Linked DNA regions of Homo sapiens: regions 1 and 3 are each reported to be linked to region 2. The links are microRNA targets in miRTarBase. Many come from high-throughput screens and were not tested one by one. Region 2 holds a microRNA gene; each other region holds the end of a gene's coding sequence. Distances are from middle to middle.
Evidence for each region. The annotated mature microRNA hsa-miR-6839-5p reads UCUGGAUUGAAGAGACGACCCA and lies in region 2 at 2,123-2,144, shown strand. An mRNA with a match to its seed (bases 2 to 7 or 8) in the 3' UTR can be bound and repressed. Matches are read on the target gene's strand: a 7mer-m8 pairs with bases 2 to 8, a 7mer-A1 pairs with bases 2 to 7 and ends in A, and an 8mer does both.

Region 1 (7,383 bases), not on the chromosome of region 2:
AGTGCGGGGTAGGGGATGAGCACACATCTTTCCCTGCTAGATCTGGACTCGGAACCCAGTCGGACCAGACCCCACCTGTGCTCCTGTCTTGGAAAAGTTCAGGGTGTGCCCTGAGCTGTGATGGCATCCCACACTTGGCCTCGGGTCCCTCAGCTTGATCTTCCCCACCTGTCTCCAAGACTGTGGCCTTCTCCATGGTACTTCTGCCTGCCCGCCTAGCAGATAGGAATTTCTTCCAAGTTCAAAGCTCTCCAGAGCAGGCATCTTTTTTTTTTTTTTTTTTTTTTTTTTTTTTTTTGAGAAGGAGTCTGTGTCGCCCAGGCTGCAGTGCAGTGGCGCGATCTCGGCTCACTGCAACCTCTGCCTCCCCAGTTCCAGCGATTCTCCTGCCTCAGCCTCCTGGAGTAGCTGGGACTACAGGCGCGGGCCACCACGCCGGCTAATTTTTGTATTTTTTAGTAGAGATGGGGTTTCACTATATTGGCCAGGCTGGTCTCCAACTCCTGACCTCGTGATCCGCCCACGTCGGCCTCCCAAAGTGGTGGGATTACAGGTGTGAGCCACCGCACCCAGCTTAACATCTTCTTCTTTGACTAGGTAATAACTCTACACAGCCAGGAAAGCATTCCTGATATCAAAACCCCTCCTGAAGCACTTCCAGCTCATTTTTTCTGTTCTGTCTTCAGAGAAAGAAATCTAGGAGCTAAAGGCCCAGCACAAAACAGCCTAGCTGGTTAATAAACATTTGTGGAAGGAGTGAACTGGAATTTGAACTCAAGACCTTGTAAAAGGGCAAAGCCTCCTCCATCCAACCGAGTCCTACCTAGGACTCTTGCAGGAACCACCTCTCTTGCTCCATATTGTTCTCTCCCTTAATGACCACCTGCTTTGGCATTGGGGAAACTCCTATGTCAACAGAAAGTGGAGATATATTCACTAACTACTGAATCCAAAACAGGCCACTAATCCAGGATCCCAGAATGTGAATTTTAATTTCAAAAAATTCTGGAGGTTGGAAGGAGGAGTGATCAGGAGAAGGTATTTACTCTGTTCTAAATACTGAGTGGAGGCTCCTCCTCTCCCAGTCAGAGAAGGAGAAAAGAAGTGAAATGGAAGGGCGAAGAAGCGGATGAACTGTCACAGCTAAGACTCCTAACATAAAAGAATTGCCAAGTTAGGTCAGCATTTAGATTCAGCAGAAGTATCAGCAGAACCAGCTCCCAGAAAGTACAGAGGCAGAAAGAGATGGCAGAGTCAGAGATGGAGAAAAAAGTGGAAATAATAAGGGACTTCCCACCCTCTGTCCATCTACCTTTAGCACACATCCCTTGGCTTTTCCCCAGACCCAGCCAAGAAATGGCTGCATCTGAGACCCTAGTCACACTCCTACACAGTCCATTTCTGAAAATTTGGGAGCAATCTCCTCCTTATCAACTGAAAATGAAATGGGCTGGAAACTACAAAAGAATTGCAAATTAGGATGGTGCTAAAGAGCTCTAATTAGTAAATTAGGATTAGAGCTAAGGAGTTTCCAAATTTAGGCAGGTCTTTAAACTAGAATAGGTGGGAAAGAGGCAAGACATACATCCAGAGGGCTCTCTCAACATTTCTTGTTAACACAGTGTCACATCCTGCTCTCCCAAGACCCCCTGCTCCTGATTCATTTTAAGGCTAATTCACACACACACACACACACACACACACACACGCACACACACACAAAGTTATTCGTGAAAGAGACATTAGAGTTCATCCACTCTAATTCCCTTCATTTAATAAATGGGAAAACTTCATAGACAACACAGTTTGATGGAAAAAGTAAAAATAAAAATAAATGAGAACTAAACTAACCCAGAAAAATTATAGGGTCTCACAGAGAGTAAGTGATAAAACCAGAGCCAAGTCTATCAGCCTTTTTCACTCTGTGGCTCCTTTCACTTTCTTTAGTCACCAGTCCTGGTGTTTAGTCTCAACCTCATTCCTCTTGTTGCAATACAATCCCATTTCTACCTTGCTGCGTCTCTAAACAGATAAGAATTGGGTATACTTGTTCCACTCTGAGGCTCAAAAGACAACTATTCTCTCCCTGTCTTTTCCTCTTGTCCTCATCCCCCACCTTTCCCAGGCTCCTTCTCATTCCTCTCCTTTTCAGCTTCTAAACTGCCCCCTACCCCTAGGAGGCTCTGCCTCCTCACTCCCCTAACCCCACAATCCTTTCCAACAAGCTTTGAGTTTGATAGAAACCAAAAATGATGCTTTGGCAGTAGGTGACGGATGGATGTGATCTGCCTCCTACGGGAATGCTATTTAAAGGGGCAGCCTCACAATCCTCTCCTTCCAAAGTGACAAGAGAAAAGTCTGCTCCTCAATCTCTCCAGAGCTGCAAACTCAGCTCAAGTTAACTTCTGACTTCCTCAACCTGCAACCTGGCCTGCTGCTCCTGCTTCCTATTCAAGTGGGAGGGAGAGTACTTGACAACTCATTGAGGTGTGGGGGCTGAAGGGGGATTCATCTTCATCTCCTTTGATGACAGGTACTTAGGAGAAGCAGGAGGCCCTGTGGGGAGGAGGACTGGAAGAACACTCTTCCCCCAACCGCGTGAGTGCATTTCAGCCATGTGCCAGCTTCTTCTCAAAGTCAAACTTTGTTGGAGAAGAACTAATATAAGCATGAGGACCTAAGGTTAAGGAAGCCTTGTCCCTAGCTGGGGGACACAGATATACCCTCCCTCCCTCCTGGATCCTGGTATTCACAGCACAGTTGTTCCCTTCCTGCAAAGCAAAGTGCTACAGGGCATCATCCCCTTGGCCAGGCCCTGGACCTTCTGCATTTTTTTTTTTTTTTTTTTTTGTGAGACAGGATCTTGCTCTGTCACCCAGACTGGAGTGCAATGGCATCATCTTCGCTCACTGCAACCTCTGCCTCCCGGACTCAAGCGATCCTCCCCACCTCAGCCTTCCAAGTAGCTAGGACTACAGGCAGGAACTACTACGCCCAGCTAATTTTCGTATTTTTTTGTAGAGACGGAGTTCGCCATGTTGACCAGGCTGGTCTTAACCTCCTTAGCTCAAGAGATCCACTGGCCTCAGCCTCCCAAAGTGTTGGGATTACAGACAACAGCCACCATGCCCAGCTAATTTTTTGTATTTTTGGAGAGACAGGGTTTCACTGTGTTGCCCAGAGTGGTCTCAAACTCCTGAGTTCAAGCGATCCGCCTGCCTCCCAAAGTGCTGGGATTACAGGGGTGAGCCACCACACCCAGTTCCTTCTGCACTTTGAAGCTGGCCCACCTGCCAACTGGATTGAACACCATGGCAGGGGAGGCAGTGTTTCTACTGTCCAAACAAAAGGGGGCACCTATGCAAGTATCTTGCCCCAGGCCTTGTGGGAGGCATAATTCCATCTCATTGCTGCAAGCAAGTTAATGGAGATGTTAATAAAAACACTACATTAATGAAAATGCTGAGGCTAGAACCTATTCTGTGCCTGTAAGACAAAACAATTGGGGTGAGATTTCTGATATCCATTCTTTAGTTCCTTTGGGCCTAAGTAAAGCAAACTTACAACCTGGGACACAACTTATTTTTTCCCAGGTTGTAAGAGGACAGAGACCCTCCTGGTAAAGGAAGCAAATTGCCTGAAATGCTGATGGGTCCTGTTACTTCTCTGTCCCTTCACCTCTGGACATTCACTTTTTGCTTCCGGTAGTAAAGGCCATCATGTCCTCACCTTCTCCAATTTGCTCCTTCTAAGGTCTCTGGATTCTAAAACCCAAGTCTTCCCTTGTGAAGAGGCAGACCGGGCAAGTAGAAAAGGTCTAGGACTGAACATCAGACTTGGGTCCCAGTTCTAGTTCTACTGCTAAACATGTGACCTTCATTAAGTCATTTAATATTTCTAAATCTGTTTTCTGACCTGAAATAGGAAAGCCTTCCCTGGCTACCTTGCAGAATTGCTATAAGGATGTGAAAGCACTTTGAAAAAGTATAAGTGGTAGAGAAATATGTGTGTATAATTATATGTTTACAAAAAGATATATCAAATGACAAAATTTTAGAAATAGAGAATATATCTGTGTTACCAGGAGCTAGAGATGGGGAAGGGGGTTGTGGGAGGAGAAAATTGCTATAAAATTGCTATAAAAGAGCAATGCGAGGGATCCTTGTGGTGATGGAACTGTTCTGTATCTTTTTTTAAATTATTATTTATTTTTTGAGACAGAGTCTCGCTCTGTCACTCAGCCTGGAATGCTGTGGCAGGATCTTAGCTTACTGCAACCTCCGCCTCCCGGGATCAAGTTATTCTGCTGCCTCAGCCTCCTGAGTAGTGGGACTACAGGCATGCACCACCACGCCCGGCTAGTTTTGGTATTTTTAGTAGAGACGGTGTTTCACTATATTGGCCAGGCTGCTCTCAAACCCCTGACCTCAGGTGATCCACCTGCCTTGGCCTCCCAAAGTGCTGGGATTACAGGCGTGAGCCACTGCGCCCGGCCTGTTCTGTATGTTGACTGCAGTGGCAGATACACAAACCTACACATGATAAAGCTGTATAGAAATAGATAACACACACACGTGCACACACAGAGAGAAATGAACATAAGCAAAACTGGGGAAGGAAATCTGAACAAGATCAGTAGATTATATCAATGTCAGTTATCCTGGTTGTGGCAGTGTACTACAGTTTTGCTAGATGTTAGCATTCAGGGAAACTGTGTAAAGGAAAATAGAATTTCTCTGTATGATTTCTTACAAGTGCAGGTGGATTAAGTATCTCAATAAAATTTTCAGTTTTAAAAAAAGGCATTCTGTCTACCCTCCATCCCCCTGCAGCAACTTGTCTTGCTGTCCTCTTAAGCAGTTCTATATGCAGATGCAGATGGAGGAGGGATCTCTATCCCCTCAAGCAGAAAAATATAAACATATAGAGTAGTTGTTCAGATACTTCTGAGCCTCCTCTTCCTCATCAACTTTACTCTCAGTCTCATAAGCCTGACACTGAATCACCCTTTAGAACATAAGCCCTTCCCATAGCAAGGAAGGAGGATTTGCTGATGCACGAAGCAGGATTCTCTATCGCTTCCACCCTAAAGAGCAGACAACTGTTGCTAAGAAAAATCTGTATGTTGATTATGGGTGCCAAGTTAAGAAAGTATTGACTAAGCCTGGGTCTCAAGAAATAAAAAGCAAACACATGTACAAAACCCCAAAACAGCTATCAAATAGGCTTCAGGAAGGCTGAATCGTTTTTGCTGAAAACCGACAACTGCTTCCCTTTCATCATGAAAGTATGGACATGACCCTAATTAACCAACTAGCTAATTATATTTGTCAATTCCAACCACTCTAGACCTGTGACATATATGATCTGTTTCTCCACTTCTCCCTGGCAGTGGATTCACAGAAGTGATGCATGGGGGCCACTATTTCCTGCCAAGGAGTTAAGTAAACCTAGTTTAGTGCTATCTTGAAAGCCCCCAGGCTCTGTGACGCTTGAAATTCTAATTAGCGCAGAAAAGGGCTAAGTTGAAACAGCTTGTACTCCCTCAAGGATACCCACTCTCAGGGCCATACAACCTAATGAGGTCTGTGAAATTTAAGATCCAGAAGAGAAATCCCTTCCTGGAGCAACAGCTATACCCAGGCTGACAAAAGGATTTGGGGTTAAATTAGTCCCTCCCAATAAAAGGCAGAGTACCCCCAAATGGTACAGGAGGGAAAACCCACCTAAGTCTGGGCCAATCAGTTGTCATGTAACCTAGAATTGACGGAGACTAACTGACCCTCTGCTCTGGGTTGTGGAGATATCAAAGCAGGAGGGGTTAAAGCAAGAGAGAACTTGTAACAAACAATGTAGTAGAGTAGGTGGGCAGTGAACATCTCTGAAGGGCACTTCCTCCTTGCCCCAGTAGGAAACGCAGTCAAGCTGGGGGCAAAGGAAGAGACCCAATGACCCCTCGAAGAGCCCCACAAAGGAAAAGAGGGGCTCCTTTGCTGCTACTCTGCAGTAGGAGCAGGTTGAATGTTTGCTGAACACATTTGAAAAAGGAAGAGAGAAGATAATGGTCCTAATGAATGTGCAGGAGACAATAGCAGCTCCAGTGGGAGGATTATAAGCTCATTATGATTTAATATGATGATTGATCATCTCTGCCCGCCAGCATTATCCTAAGAATAGTGATGAAGGTCGGAGAGGCCCATGCCTGTCAGAGCTCAAGCTCAAGTCACCAGAAGATAGAAAATATACTTGTACGTTACTCCTTTTTTCATTGTAAAATTCACACATGTGGCCCCACGCCCTAACTTTTTCCATAAGCTGTCCTCCATGCTCCCAGCCTGCCTCACTGCTCTACGATTTCTCAGCCCTGGATTGTTCTTCCACAGATCTGCTCATCAACTCTGGCTCCTGACCCTCTCTCCTTAGTGACCCCACCCCATTCCCACCCCCTGCGAAAGTGACCACAGCTTCCACTATGGCAAGGGTTTAGGAAGGTCCAAAGGGCTCTTCAGTGGGTACTGGCAGGCATTCAGTTTAGGTGGAAGGCCCGAGACACCTCCCGATAGGCATTTCGAAGCAGGACATAAGGGAAACAGGACTCCAGCATGTCCAGGGTCAGGAAGGATGACTCCTCCACCACCTGAAAGAGATGGGGCCAAGAGATGAGAACCTCAGGTAGGGCATTTGTCTGTGATACCCTGTTCCTTTTGCATAGTTCCCAGGCCCTCTGAGGCCCTGAGAGTTACAAGTGAACAGGGTTCCAAATCACACCCCCCTCTTCCCTCACTTGGTTTGGCTGCAGGAAGGCAATGTGGCATCTTCAGCTCCATTATCATTGACCCTGACCCCCTCATCAGGACTATGTGAAGGGCACAGAAGCAGACAGCAGGAGAGAACCACTTTCCCAGTGCAGCAAAACCCATTCTCTCCCATTCTGGATGCTAAATCACATGTGGGTGGGCAGCACACAGATGCAGGTAAAGATGTATAAAAGTGCTAATTACAAAGCTTTGCAGCAAGAGAAACAAACACCACTGCAGGCCACGGAAGGGGGCCTGGAATCCACATGGGTCCTCTTGTGTTGGGCCTCAGTCTCCTCCCTCTCTCAGTACAGTGCTTGGGGAACAGTAAGGATGCCGCATAAAGGAGCAGGCATGATTAATTAGTTTAATTAGAAGCCTGTGTGCTGCGGTAATCCCAGCAGCCCCCACAGCCAAGCAGGAAGATAGATCAAGATGCCCGGAGAAGAATGAGAGTGGGGGTGAGGGTGAAGAGGGGGAGGTGGGTGGACAGGGCATGTTCATGAAGAGCAGCATAGCCTAGCGGTGGACTGGAGGGTCCCCATCCCTGAGGAAGGAGCAGGGTGTATTTCCTTCAGTGCCTTCC
Region 2 (7,383 bases):
TGAGCCAGACAAAGGCATGAATGACTGTATTTTTCTATCCTCTTCTTACATGAAAATTGTATACTTACCAACATCCCACCCTTTTCCTTTTAAATATGAAGTCCTCAAAATGATCTTAGAAGAAAGACATAGACTTGTCTCCAGGGCACACCTCCTTAACTTTGGCAAAAAACCTCCTAAAATGATTGAGATTTGTCTTGTCATTTTTCTGGATTAACATACCCATGGATTTTTTTTTTTTTGAGATGGAGTTTCACTCTTGTTGCCCAGGCTGGAGTGCAGTGGCATGATTTTGGCTCACTGCAACCTCCATCTCCCAGGTTCAAGCCATTCACCTGCCTCAGCTTCCCAAGTAGCTGGGATTACAGGCATGCATCACCATGCCTGGCAAATTTTTGTATTTTTAGTAGAGACGGGGTTTTGCCATGTTGGTCAGGCTGGTCTCGAACTCATGACCTTAGGTGATCCACCCGCCTTGGCCTCTCAAAGTGCTGGGATTACAGGCATGAGCCACCGCACCTCGCCGGATTTTTTTTTTTATAACACCTTTCTCTCTTCTATTTTTTTTTCTGATAACATTCTTTCAGTTGCATACAGTGTGCAAAATTAAGATGTCCAAGAGTTCGGCTAGGCGTGGTGGCTCACGCCTGTAATCCCAGCACTTTGGGAGGCCGAGGCGGGCGGATCATGAGATCAGGAGATCGAGACCATCCTGGCTAACACGGTGAAACCCTGTCTCTACTAAAAATACAAAAATTAGATGGGCGTGGTAGTGGGTGCCTATAGACCCAGCTACTTGGGAGGCTGAGGCAGGAGAATGGTGTGAACCCGCAAGGCGGGGCTTGCAGTGAGCCAAGATCAAGCCACTGCACTCCAGCCTGGGCGACAGAGCAAGACTCTGTCTCAAAAAAAAAAAAAAAAAAAAAAAGGATGTCCAGGAGTTCAAAAACATGTCCAGAGACCTGTCTGTTGTAGGAGAAAATAAAAATTAGAAATAAGAGGCTTTATTCTCCTATGTGAAAAATAAGGGAGGATATTTTGCTAATCTCTTTTTTCTTAAAGGATTTAAATTATACATAGATTTTTGTCTTTGTTGTTTTGAACGATACATAAATTATATTAACAGCTAAATAAATTTTTGGTCATTGTTCTTGATTTGGGATTGTCTTTATCTGAGACCTCAGGTTTATTGCTTTGTTTTTGCTTTGGCAAATTTTTTAAAATTTTTTAATCTTTTAAAGTAGACACAGATTTGTTTAAATCAAAACTCATTTTAAGAGCACACAAAAGTTGAGCACAAAGATAGTATTAAATTTAGCAGTACTGAATAATGAGGACTAAAAAATGCTGAGTAAATTCCTTTGACAGAAAATGGATTATCCAACGTAATTATCTAATATTTGCAGGCTAAAATACTTCCATTGCAAAAGCGAGGTTCAGTGTATGAACCGAACAGTGGAGTATGTAGTTGTTCTTTGGTTTCTATTTATTACTTCAGAACAATTAGCATAGTTAGGTGTAGCATTTGTAGACAAACTGCATTCATATCAATTGAACAGTATTTTCTACACTAGTATAAATGTAAGGCCACAATATTTACTTTGAATGAATCCCTTAGTCATTTTAGTATTGTTATTCATACTTTCAAAACATAAAGTGTTTTAATTGAATTATGGTTACAGACAATATTTTAAAATCCTACATACATTATGACTAGTACACTAAAATTATTTATACTTAGGTATTTTATCCAATGTGAAAGAAAATTTACTACCAAATTATTATAGTAGATATTAGTATGATATGCTTACTAGTTTATTCAATAGAGATAATATTAGGGAAGCATGATTTTAGTGTCTTTTATTTCACTAAATTGGAATGCTGCTATTACAAGACAAATAAGGGTGATGTGGCCACTCAAAAACCATAATAGCTCTTCACTTAGCCATGATGCAAGCTCAAATATATTCCACTATATTAACAAAGTCATATTCCAATTGTTCATCAAAATGTTTTGGTGGAAATTGTCAGGCATATTCCAGTATAGATCTCCCATTCAATGGCTAGAAGATAAGAGAGCAGCAGAGATGAAAGAGGAACCTTACTTTGTGTTATGGTGTAGTCTGGATTGAAGAGACGACCCAAGCAGGCTTTGTGTGAGCAGTGAGGCTATTTATTCACTTGGGTGCGAGCTCACACGAAGCCTGCTTGGGTTTTCTCTTCAATCCAGACTGTGCCATAACACACATTTGATGCTGAAATCCGGGATAGGGGAACTCCTTTGGGAGTCGTGTCCCTTAACCCCTTCCCCCGACTTCTTGAAGAGACCCACCCGCGACCTCGGTACCTCGGACCAGCTCTGTAAAAGCCCCGCCTCTGCCTTCGGATAGGTAAGAGACCTCCATCCTTTCTCAAACTTTCCTTTTCTTAGAGAGGAGAGGACACTCACTGTCTGTGTTTCCTAAATCTAACATTGGTCATGGATTATCTCTGGGAAGACAGGCTTCCCTAGGTGACTGGTCAACCACAGGGACATGTGCCTTGGCCACTCATCCACTGCACAACCCAGATGGGGACACCTGCTGAAGGTCCTTGTGGTTGCTCTCCTCCTCGTTTCTCTCTCCCTGTCTCTCTGTTTCTTCAGTCCTCCGCTGTTCATTATGGGCACCCTTCCACCCTCCATTCCTCCTCCTTGTCCTTTGGACTGTGTCCTTAGGAATCTAAAACCGCTCCGTCTTTCACCTGATTTGGAACCTAAACATCTCATTTTCTTCTGTAATATGGCCTGGCCCCAATATAAATTAGACAGTGGCTCTCAGTGGCCAGAAAATGGCACTTTCAATTTCTCTATTTTGTGGGACTTAGACAACTTTTGTCACAAAATGGGCAAATGGTTTGAGGTTCCATACATCCAGGCATGTTTTACACTTCGGTCCCTCCCCAGCCCTTGTTCCCAATGCAATTTGTCTCAAATTCTCCTTCTGTCCCGCCCATCTGCTCCCCTACCACCCTCTGGCGACAGCGAGTCCTTCTTGTCCACAGACCCTTCCGATATTTCTCCTCCCTGCCCGTCCGACTCCGGTCCCAACCCTTCTCCAGACCCCAGTCCCCCTTCTACCCATACCATGCCTCCCTATATCCCTTCTGTCCCTACTCTGCCCCATACCCGAACTGGCTGACAATTTGGTCCCACTTCTAATCCCCCTCCTCCCACCCCACTATTTCCCCTTTGAGAGGTGGCTGGAGCTGAAGGGATAGTCCGAGTTCATGTTTCTTTCTCCCTGTCTGACCTGTCTCAGGTCAGCCAGTGTTTAGGTTCTTTTCCATAAGACTCCACTAAATATATCCAGGAATTTCAATATTTAACTCAGTCTTATAACCTCACCTGGAGTGACTTAAATGTCATCCTCACTTCTACACTCACTCCTGAAGAATGGGAGGGTGTTTGGGCCCTAGCTCAGTCCTATGCAGGTGACCACTGGCGCCTTGAGCCAGGTCTCCAGGGAGGTCCCCCGTGAGGACCCCCAGTGGAACTATCAAACAGGATCTCCTGGTATGGCCGGGCGAGATTATATGATCACTTGCTTAGTAGAGGGACTCCAAAAAGCTGCGTATAAGGCTGTCAATTATGATAAGTTAAAAGAAATCACTCAGGGCAAGGACGAAAATCCAGCCCAGTTTGTGGCCCATCTGGCCATAAATCCAGCTTTAGACCCTGAAGGGCCAGGGGCCAGAAGGCCGACTCATGCATTTTATTACCCAGTCAGCTCCCGACATTAGAAAAAAACTTCAAAAATTAGAGTCTGGCCCTCAAACCCCACAACAGGATTTAATTAACCTTGCCTTTAAGGTGTTCAGTAACAGGGAAGAGGCTACCTGGTGGCAGCGTGTTTCTGAATTACAGATGCTTGCCTCCGCCGTAAGACGAACCCCAGCCACACCAATGGCCTGTAGGGATTTCAAGGCATCCAGACCGCAGCGCCCAGCAGCCCCTCCAGGGCCATGCTTCAAGTGCCATAAAAATAGTCACTGGGCCAAGGAATGCCTGCAGCCTGGGGTTCCTCCTAAGCCATGCCCTGTTTGTGCAGGCCCTCACTGGAAGTCAGACTGTCCAACTCAAGCTGCCATCCCTAGAGCTCCTGGAGCTTAACCCCACAGCCCCCTGGCTGACTCCTTCTCTGATCTCCTCGGCTTGGCGGCTGAGGAATGACACTGCCCGAACACCTCGGAGGCCCCATGGACCATCATGGACCTCGGGTAACTCTTAAGGTGGAGGGTAAGTCCATCCCCTTTTTGATCGATATGGGGGCCACTCACTCCACCCTGCCCTCCTTTCAGGGACCTGTCTCCCTAGCCTCCATGACTGTTGTGGGAATTGACGGCAAAGCCTCCAGACCTCTCCAGACTCCACTTGTGTGTCAACTAGATCAGCACTCCTTTTTGCACTCCTTTTAGTCATCCCCACTTGTCCAGTCCCTCTCCTCGGCTGAGGCATCCTAACAAAACTGTCTGCCTCCCTCACTATTCCTAGGCTACAGCCACACCTCCTTGCCACCCTTCTCCCCAACCCTTCACCATCCCCACAAGCTCCTCTAACGTCTCCCTTCCTCAACCCCAGGGTCTGGGATATCATCTCTCCCTCCCTTGCTACAGATCACTCCCCCCTTATCATCCCTTTAAGGCCAAACCATCCTTACCCTGCCCAATGCCAGTATCCTATCCCTATGCCACCCCTAAAAGGCCTAAAGCCTTTTTACCCACTTTTTACAACATGGCCTCTTAGTACCCATTAACTCTCCCATCCTTCCCTTTCAAAAACCAGACAAGTCCTACATATTAGTTCAAGACCTTCGTCTCATCAATCAGATTGTACTTTTCATCCATTCTATAGTGCCAAACCCATATACTCTCTTGTCCAGAATACCTCCCACCACTACCTATTATTCCGTTCTCAGCCTAAAAGATGCCTTCTACACCATTCCCCTACATCCCTCCTCTCAACCTCTTTTTGCCTTCACCTGGACTGACGCTGACACCCATCAGTCCCAACAACTAACCTGGACCATTCTTCCCAGGGCTTCCGGAATAGCCCTCATTATTTTAGCCAAGCCCTTGCCTGCGACCTACTCTCTTTTCAGCCTTCCTTTTCCTACCTCATCCAGTATGTCGATGATCTCTGCAGTCTCTCCTAGGAATCCTCCCAACAGAATATCCTCCTACTCCTTCAGCATTTAGACTCTAAAGGGTACCGAATGTCCCCTTCTAAAGCTCAAATTTCTTCCCCTTCTGTTATTTGTCTCAGCATAATTCTCCATCAGCACACCCGCACTCCCCCCGCTGACCGTATTCACCTAATCTCCTAGACCCCAGTCCCTTCAAAAACAGCAGCTTCTCTCCTTCCTAGGCATCATTGGGTACTTCCACCTCTAGGTACCTGGTTTTGCCCTCTTAACAAAACCCCTTTATAAGCTTACAAAAGGCAACCTAGCTGACCCCATAGACCCCAAACCTTCCCTCATTCATCCTTTCACTCCCTGAAAAAAGCTCTTGAGACAGCCTCCTCACTGGCGTTCCTCGACTCCACCCAGCCCTTCTCTCTACATGGCAGAGGTAAAGGGATGTGCAGTTGGGGTCCTAACACAAGGGCCAGGCCCACGACCAGTGGCCTACTTATCTAAACTTGACCTCACAGTCCTAGGCTGGCTGCCCTGTTTACATGCTGCAGCGGCCACTGCCCTAATACTCCTAGAATCCCTCAAAATCACTGGTTACACCCCAGTTACCCTCTATAGCGCTCACAACCTCCAGAGTCTCATTTCTTCCTCTCACCTCACACAACTACTCTCCTCCCATCTCCTCCAGCTTTATTCACTCTTTATTTTAAACCCCATGCTAACCATTGCTCTTGGACCCAGTTTCAACCCAGCCTTTCACTTAGCACCCAACACATGTCCTGAGCCACATGACTGCATCTCCTTAATACACATGGCATCCTCCCCCTCTCCTCACATTTCTGTTTTTCCAGTCCCAAACCCAGATCACACTTGGTTTATTGATGGTAGTTCTTCAAGACCCAACCAATTTTCGCCAGCCAAGGCAGGTTATGCTATTTGTTGTGTCCCACACATCTGTTATCGAGGCTGCTGCACTTCCACCCTCCACCACCTCTCAGCAAGCTGAACTAATTGCTTTAACTCACGCTGTCTCTCTCTAAGGGAATGCACGTCAATATTTATACTGATTCCAGGTATGCTTTCCACATCCTTCATCACAGTGCTGCCATCTGGGTGGAAAGAGGTTTTCTAACCACACAAGGGTCTTCCATTATCAATGCCTTTCTCATAAAGGCCCTCCTTAAGGCTGCTCTTCTGCCAGCCAAGGCTGGAGTTGTCCACTGCAGAGGATGCCAAAAACCAACAGACCCTATCACTAAAGGAAATGCCCATGCCAGTAAAACAGCAAAAGAGGTGGCAAACACCTCAGTGTCTGCAGACGTTCCAGTCTCTGCTCCAAAAGACCAGTATATTTCTTTCTCATCTATTATCCCTACCTACTACTCTTCTTCTGAAAACCTGCTCTGCTAGTCCTTTCCAACTCACAAGGCAAGTGGTTCTTAGATCATAGAAAGTTCCTTCTTCCTGCCTCACAAGCGCAATCTATTCTCTTATCCCTCCATGACCGCTTCCATGTAGGATACAAGCCTTTGGCTCGCCTCCTAGAGCCCCTTATTTCTTTCTCATCATGGAAGTCCGTCCTTAAACAATCACTTCTTAATGTTCTGTCTGCCACTCCAAGGTTTTCTTAGGCCCCCTCCTTCCCCAGCACATCAGGCCTGAGGGTTTACTACTACACAAGATTGGCAAATTGACTTCACTCATATGCCTCGTGTCAAAAAATATAAGTACCTCCTAGTTTGGGTTGATACCTTCACCAGATGGGTCGAGGCCTTCCCTACTGGATCTGAAAAGGCTGCAGCAGTTTTTACCTCTCTTCTAACAGATATTGTTACCTGTTTCGGCCTCCCTACTTCCATCCAATCTGACAGTGGTCCAGCCTTCATTAGCCAAATCACCCAGGCAGTTTCCCAGGCCCTTGGCATCCAGTGGAATCTCCACACCCCATACCATCCTCATTCCTCAGGAAAGGTTGAAAGAGCCAACGGCCTCTTAAAAACTCACCCTCCAACTCCGAAAGGACTGGACTGTTCTCCTACCACTTGTGCTTCTCAGGATCTGAGCCACCGCCCATGAACCTACCAGGTATAGCCCATTCGAACTCTTATATGGTAGTACTTTTCTACTGGGGCCCAACCTCATCCCAGACACCAGTCCTCCAACAGGCTAGGAATGAAATCTGTCAGGCTGCTAACCTTCTTTTACCCAC
Region 3 (7,383 bases), 41 Mb from region 2:
AGGAAGTAAGGTTTTAAAACTGCCACTTAATGTGATTTATATTTATCTCTTTCAGGTGAATGAACTTCAGAATTTGTCAAGTGCAGAAGTTGTTGTCCCTCGTGACCAGACACCTGATGAGAATGACCAAGTGGTTGTCAAAATAACTGGTCACTTCTATGCTTGCCAGGCAAGTGGGCTCTAAAATAAGCTATTGTATCTTTCTCACGTGGAAGCAATTCTCCCACAGGTGCTCCTACCTGATAGAATTAGTTAAGGTTGTTTGATGCTTAAGACTTTTCATCTCCCTTTTAGCGGGTGATTTCAGAGACTACTAGCAAACTGACTAGTATGTATCTTTAATCATCAAATGGATTTCTATTTGAAATTGTTGAAATGAAGGAGTACAATAACTTTTAGTAGCTTTTGATCAAGTGGAATTTCAAAGCTCTGTCCTTTTCTAGGTTGCCCAGAGAAAAATTCAGGAAATTCTGACTCAGGTAAAGCAGCACCAACAACAGAAGGCTCTGCAAAGTGGACCACCTCAGTCAAGACGGAAGTAAAGGCTCAGGAAACAGCCCACCACAGAGGCAGATGCCAAACCAAAGACAGATTGCTTAACCAACAGATGGGCGCTGACCCCCTATCCAGAATCACATGCACAAGTTTTTACCTAGCCAGTTGTTTCTGAGGACCAGGCAACTTTTGAACTCCTGTCTCTGTGAGAATGTATACTTTATGCTCTCTGAAATGTATGACACCCAGCTTTAAAACAAACAAACAAACAAACAAAAAAAGGGTGGGGGAGGGAGGGAAAGAGAAGAGCTCTGCACTTCCCTTTGTTGTAGTCTCACAGTATAACAGATATTCTAATTCTTCTTAATATTCCCCCATAATGCCAGAAATTGGCTTAATGATGCTTTCACTAAATTCATCAAATAGATTGCTCCTAAATCCAATTGTTAAAATTGGATCAGAATAATTATCACAGGAACTTAAATGTTAAGCCATTAGCATAGAAAAACTGTTCTCAGTTTTATTTTTACCTAACACTAACATGAGTAACCTAAGGGAAGTGCTGAATGGTGTTGGCAGGGGTATTAAACGTGCATTTTTACTCAACTACCTCAGGTATTCAGTAATACAATGAAAAGCAAAATTGTTCCTTTTTTTTGAAAATTTTATATACTTTATAATGATAGAAGTCCAACCGTTTTTTAAAAAATAAATTTAAAATTTAACAGCAATCAGCTAACAGGCAAATTAAGATTTTTACTTCTGGCTGGTGACAGTAAAGCTGGAAAATTAATTTCAGGGTTTTTTGAGGCTTTTGACACAGTTATTAGTTAAATCAAATGTTCAAAAATACGGAGCAGTGCCTAGTATCTGGAGAGCAGCACTACCATTTATTCTTTCATTTATAGTTGGGAAAGTTTTTGACGGTACTAACAAAGTGGTCGCAGGAGATTTTGGAACGGCTGGTTTAAATGGCTTCAGGAGACTTCAGTTTTTTGTTTAGCTACATGATTGAATGCATAATAAATGCTTTGTGCTTCTGACTATCAATACCTAAAGAAAGTGCATCAGTGAAGAGATGCAAGACTTTCAACTGACTGGCAAAAAGCAAGCTTTAGCTTGTCTTATAGGATGCTTAGTTTGCCACTACACTTCAGACCAATGGGACAGTCATAGATGGTGTGACAGTGTTTAAACGCAACAAAAGGCTACATTTCCATGGGGCCAGCACTGTCATGAGCCTCACTAAGCTATTTTGAAGATTTTTAAGCACTGATAAATTAAAAAAAAAAAATTAGACTCCACCTTAAGTAGTAAAGTATAACAGGATTTCTGTATACTGTGCAATCAGTTCTTTGAAAAAAAAGTCAAAAGATAGAGAATACAAGAAAAGTTTTTGGGATATAATTTGAATGACTGTGAAAACATATGACCTTTGATAACGAACTCATTTGCTCACTCCTTGACAGCAAAGCCCAGTACGTACAATTGTGTTGGGTGTGGGTGGTCTCCAAGGCCACGCTGCTCTCTGAATTGATTTTTTGAGTTTTGTTTGTAAGATGATCACAGTCATGTTACACTGATCTAAAGGACATATATATAACCCTTTAAAAAAAAAATCACTGCCTCATTCTTATTTCAAGATGAATTTCTATACAGACTAGATGTTTTTCTGAAGATCAATTAGACATTTTGAAAATGATTTAAAGTGTTTTCCTTAATGTTCTCTGAAAACAAGTTTCTTTTGTAGTTTTAACCAAAAAAGTGCCCTTTTTGTCACTGGATTCTCCTAGCATTCATGATTTTTTTTTCATACAATGAATTAAAATTGCTAAAATCATGGACTGGCTTTCTGGTTGGATTTCAGGTAAGATGTGTTTAAGGCCAGAGCTTTTCTCAGTATTTGATTTTTTTCCCCAATATTTGATTTTTTAAAAATATACACATAGGTGCTGCATTTATATCTGCTGGTTTAAATTCTGTCATATTTCACTTCTAGCCTTTTAGTATGGCAAATCATATTTTACTTTTACTTAAGCATTTGTAATTTGGAGTATCTGGTACTAGCTAAGAAATAATTCTATAATTGAGTTTTGTACTCACCATATATGGATCATTCCTCATGTATAATGTGCCCCAAATGCAGCTTCATTTTCCAGATACCTTGACGCAGAATAAATTTTTTCATCATTTAGGTGCAGCTTGTTGTGTAGTATGTTTTATTTTTGGTTTTCAATTGAATGGGAATGTTCTGAATTTTTTTTCAAACTCTACGCAGATTTCTGTTATACCATGTCCAGCCATGGTACTTAATGTGAACCTTGATAATACTCTTGCATATGAACTAAGAACTAGAGCGTTCAGAGTTTTTCCTAACAAACACTTTGTTTACTTTCTTGTGTTACTGGAGTATTCTGGAAGGGTTACAGAAGTCCTCCTAGAAGAATATTATCACCTCAAAGTATAAAAATAAGACCAGTGGGCTATGTTTTATATTATTTTTTAAAATTTTTGCCATTCCATTAAACAAACAGGGTTAAGATTTACATTTAAGCTAAATTAAATTAATAAAAATCTGAGCAGAGAAGTCAAGCACAGGAGCCAGTGCTAACTCCAGGAAATTCTGATGACATTTCCAGGATAAAGGCAGCGTGTCATAAGTTTTGGGTAGAATGTACTGATTTTTGGTTGCAGGTATAGCTCACTTATCGACAGTCTCTGCATGCCAGTTAGCAGGAGTGCCCATGAGGTACACAAGCCTTGTCCTAAGAGCAGCCTAACCAAGGAGACGGACTTTAGGAGCTGTATTTTCCAATAAGTGACTCAATCCAAATCTGAAATGACTAACGCAGTGCATAAAATATTTTATTCACATTTTAACTCCACTGGAGTCACAGATGAAGTATCATCTTCTATTCCAAGAATGAAGTCTTCAGGTACTGTCTCAGGTGCTATCTGAGCTAACTGGTCATCATAAGAACGTAGGGTCCATAATTTCTCTAATTCATAGATTTCTCTGGTTTCTGGAAGCATCAAATGAATCACCATGCTGCCTGTCAGGGACAGATAAGAGATACAATGAAGGAATAGTTCATTTGCTTTTATTCTTACCTTACAACACACACTGGCTAACTCTAGGAATAAAGCAGTGGTTCTCAAGTGTGGTTCCCAGATTAGCATCACTGTGGACTCCATCCCAGCAAAAATACCACAGAAGTGATGCTATGCCTTTCTCAGTGTACCTACAGGAGGCATATGTCAATATATAACATTGCTGGTGATAGTAACTTTATCAAAGAGACTAATGGTGTCAGGATTCTCTTCGGTGACAATTCTCCATGGGTAACACACTTCTGCACATCTTTTGTGCAAAAACACTGACTGCCTTTTGTTTTGACTATCCAAGAATGTTTGTATCGTGAATATTCTTAACAGAAAGATACTGCCTCCCTCCAGGGCAAAGGGCAGCTTTGCTTACAGCAGCATTTCTCAATTAGGTAATAATGGTAATGTTTAGAGTCATTTTTGATTGTCACAATTGGAGAAGGGAGGATACTGCTAAACATCGTACCGTGCACAAGAGACACCCCTCCCCCACATGCAAAATTACCTGGTCCAAAACGTTAATAGCGACAAAAGTGAGAAACCATCAGAGCAAAAGTAGGCCTGCTTCCTGCCAGTTATAAAAAACCTAGACACCCTCATCTGAGTTCCAGTTTTACAACTGTGTGTGCTGGTGTCATCTGGCCCATGTTGCCCTATGGAATCCAGAGCTCAGGAAACCAGTGCAAAATGGATGCTGGCTACTGCTGTGAGTAATAAACTGTTCTTTGTCTCTAACCCTCTAATAGTCTTGTCTTTTACCAGTGTCCATGAAAACTGGCGGGACAATGTATTAGCTTACAAGCAGAATAAAATCTCAGACTCCTCAGTTCTTGACATACAGTTATGTTTCCCCTTTGTAAATATTATCTTGTTGGGAGGTGCTTTGAAACTATGTACACATTAATACCCAAAGTTGTTAGATCTTTTCAAAATTCTAGTCTTCTGCTCTTGTCCTTTTTTGTGCCTGGAATAACCTCATCCTCATCTCATTTATGCACCACAGCCCCCAAACCTTCCTCTACCACTACTAAGGAATCTCTCCCGCCTCTACTATGTTATCCTGTTGTCCACCACCTTCCTGATCTGTGTGGCTAGTAGATACACACCATGTAGTATATATCTTCCTCCAGGAGGGCATCATCTAGGGTACTTTGGTTTGGTTAGGTGAAAATTCTACATGTGAATAAGACCACCTGGATTATAACTAAAAAAACTTTTGTTACCTTAAACACACTTCAAAAATCTTACCTGGAAATACATTCATCAATTTGATCTCAATCCTTTTGCAACTGAAAACAATTCAAGATTAGCGTAGTACCAACAGTTACCTGTAAAATACGCCAGAATAACTTACCAAAATCCACGCACAGCCAGTCATCAGTGTCCTTCCCTTCTATCTTAACATGAGGGTCACGTTTACATTTCAGGTGTTTGTACTGCAAAAAGCCAGGTGGTTTATTAAAGGGAGAGGGGATGGGGGAAGCCTGTTCTTGCTGAAGGTCTTTTTTTTTTGTTTGTTTGTTTGTTTTTTTTAATCTTTCTTACTCATTTCTCATTGCTATACTTTGCCCTGTGATGAATAACTTAGGGAAACTATTTCTCCCTCTAAATCTTATTCACTTTCACCTCTCTCCTGAATTCTCCTGCCCCAGCCCTTCTGAGAGGGTCACCCCATTCATTCACCAAGGTGCCTCTGAGGCTGAAAAAGCTAAGCTCAGTCAGCATTTGGTACCCACCTACATCCATCACTTGTGTTCATCCCAGCTTTCCTTCACCTTTAGGGGCTGCAGATACTACCTTCTGTTTATAAAGCCAGGTTGTTTCAGTGCCACTGATTTCATCTCATCTGCCTTTATGACATGTTAATGGGACCCCGTCATCCTATAAATGTGCTCAGTTCTTTTGTTAAAACAGATATACTAATATCAAACAAGATGGCAATTAAGTAAAAACTGTTACAAGAGACAAAGGACATCTCATATACATCACCCCAAAATCAAAGGAAATGATAATTAGGGCAGGAAAAAGACAAAATCAATGAAACTAGGATTTGGTTCTTAGAATGACTAAGAAAAAAGACAACTAAAATCTGAAATGAAAGAAGTGACACTACTGATTTTAGAGAAATGGGATTGTAAGAGTATTATGAGCAACTGTACACCAAACAACTGGGTAACCTAGACGAAATAGCAAAATTTCTAGAAACACAATCTACTGACTGAATCATGCAGAAATATAAAGTTTCAATAGACCATAACTAGTATGGGGACTGGATCAGTAATCAAAAATCTCCCAACAAAAGTCCTAGACCAGATGGCTTCCCTGATGAGTTTTACCAAATATTTAAACAAGAATGCAATACTCAAATTCTCCCCAAAAAATTGAAGAACAGGGAACACTTCCTAACTCATTCCATAAGACCAATAACCCTGATGAACATTTGATGCAAAAATCCTCAACAAAAATACTAGCAAACCAAACTCAGCACCATATTAAAAGGATTATAGACCATGACCAAGTGGGATTTATCCCTGGAATGCAAGGTGGTTCAACATATAAAAACGGATCAATGCAATAACACCACATTAACAGAATGAAGAAAAAATCTATATGATAATCTGAACTGACGCAGAAAAAGCATTTAACAAAATTCAATACCCTTTCACAATAAAGCACTCAACAAAGTGGGCATAAAAGGAAATTACCTCAACATAATAAGGGCCATGTGAGAAAAGCACACAGCTAATATATTCAATGGTGAGACTGAAAGCTTTCCTGTAAGATCAGGAACAAGACTATGCCTGCTTTTGCTACTTCTATTCAACACAGTATTGGAAGTTCTAGTCAGAGCAATTCGTCAATAAAAAAAAAAAAGGTACCCAAATTGGAAAGGAGGAAGTAAAATTATCTCTGAAGACAATACAACTTCATATGTAGAAAACCCCAAAGATTCCACAAAAAAAACCCAGTTAGGGCTACTAAACAAATTCAGCACACAAAAATCCATCGTATTTCTATACACTAACAATGAGCAACCTGGAAACAAAGTTTTTAGAATTCCATTTACAATAGCAGAATAATACTTTTTTTTTTTTAATTGAGACGTTCTTGTTTTGAGTTTCGCTCTTGTTGCCCAGGCTGGACTATAATGGCGCAATCGCGGCTCACAGCAACCTCCACCTCCCAAGTTCAAGCGATTCTCCTGCCTCAGCCTCCCAAGTAGCCGGGATTACAGGCATGCGCCACCACGCCCGGCTAATTTTGTATTTTCAGTAGAGACGGGGTTTCTCCATGTTGGTGCGGCTGGTCTTGAACTCCCGATCTCAGGTGATCTGCCTGCCTCGGCCTCCCAAAGTGCTAGGATTACAGACATCAGCCACCGTGAGCAGCCTAGCAGAATAATCTTAACCACAGGAGCAAAAGACTTGTACAATGAAGACTACAAAACACTGCTGAAAGAACTTACAGATGCCAGTAAATGGAAAGATACTTCATATTCATGGATGGGAAGACAATATTGTAAAGATGCCAATACTACCCAATGCAGTCTACAGATTCAGTGCAATCTATATCAAGATCACAATATTTTTTGAAGAAACAGAAAAATCCAACCTAAACTTTATGTGGGGCCAGACACGGTGGCTCACACCTGTAATCCCAGCCCTTTGGGAGGCCAAGGCGGGTGCATCACCTGAGGTTAGGAGTTTAAGACCAGCCTAGCCAAAATGGTGAAACCTCATCTCTACTAAAAATACAAAAAATTAGCTGGGCATGGTGGCGGGC

Region 1: the mRNA of NCKAP1L is a reported target of hsa-miR-6839-5p. Seed matches in the 3' UTR shown: 7mer-m8 at 6,365-6,371, 8mer at 3,757-3,764 and 7mer-m8 at 3,298-3,304.
Region 3: the mRNA of IGF2BP3 is a reported target of hsa-miR-6839-5p. Seed matches in the 3' UTR shown: 7mer-A1 at 625-631.

What each region holds. Positions count from the first base shown.
Region 1 is chr12:54,541,829-54,549,211 of GRCh38, reverse strand. NCKAP1L (NCK associated protein 1 like) reads right to left here. Exons shown (of 31, transcript NM_005337.5): 31 at 969-6,637. The coding sequence ends at 6,527. Among named protein-coding and RNA genes, the nearest start is that of PDE1B, 4.1 kb to the left of the region's middle. RefSeq lists an enhancer at 2,209-2,753.
Region 2 is chr7:64,676,947-64,684,329 of GRCh38, forward strand. MIR6839 (microRNA 6839) reads left to right here and starts at 2,118; the gene lies at 2,118-2,230. All of the region lies in intron 1 of ZNF107 (zinc finger protein 107), which reads left to right. It also overlaps the pseudogene BNIP3P11.
Region 3 is chr7:23,305,521-23,312,903 of GRCh38, reverse strand. IGF2BP3 (insulin like growth factor 2 mRNA binding protein 3) reads left to right here. Exons shown (of 15, transcript NM_006547.3): 14 at 56-169; 15 at 444-2,695. The coding sequence ends at 542. MALSU1 (mitochondrial assembly of ribosomal large subunit 1) reads right to left here. Exons shown (of 4, transcript NM_138446.2): 3 at 4,955-5,036; 4 at 1,175-3,548. The coding sequence ends at 3,361. Among named protein-coding and RNA genes, the nearest start is that of MALSU1, 9.9 kb to the right of the region's middle. RefSeq lists a silencer at 4,327-4,527.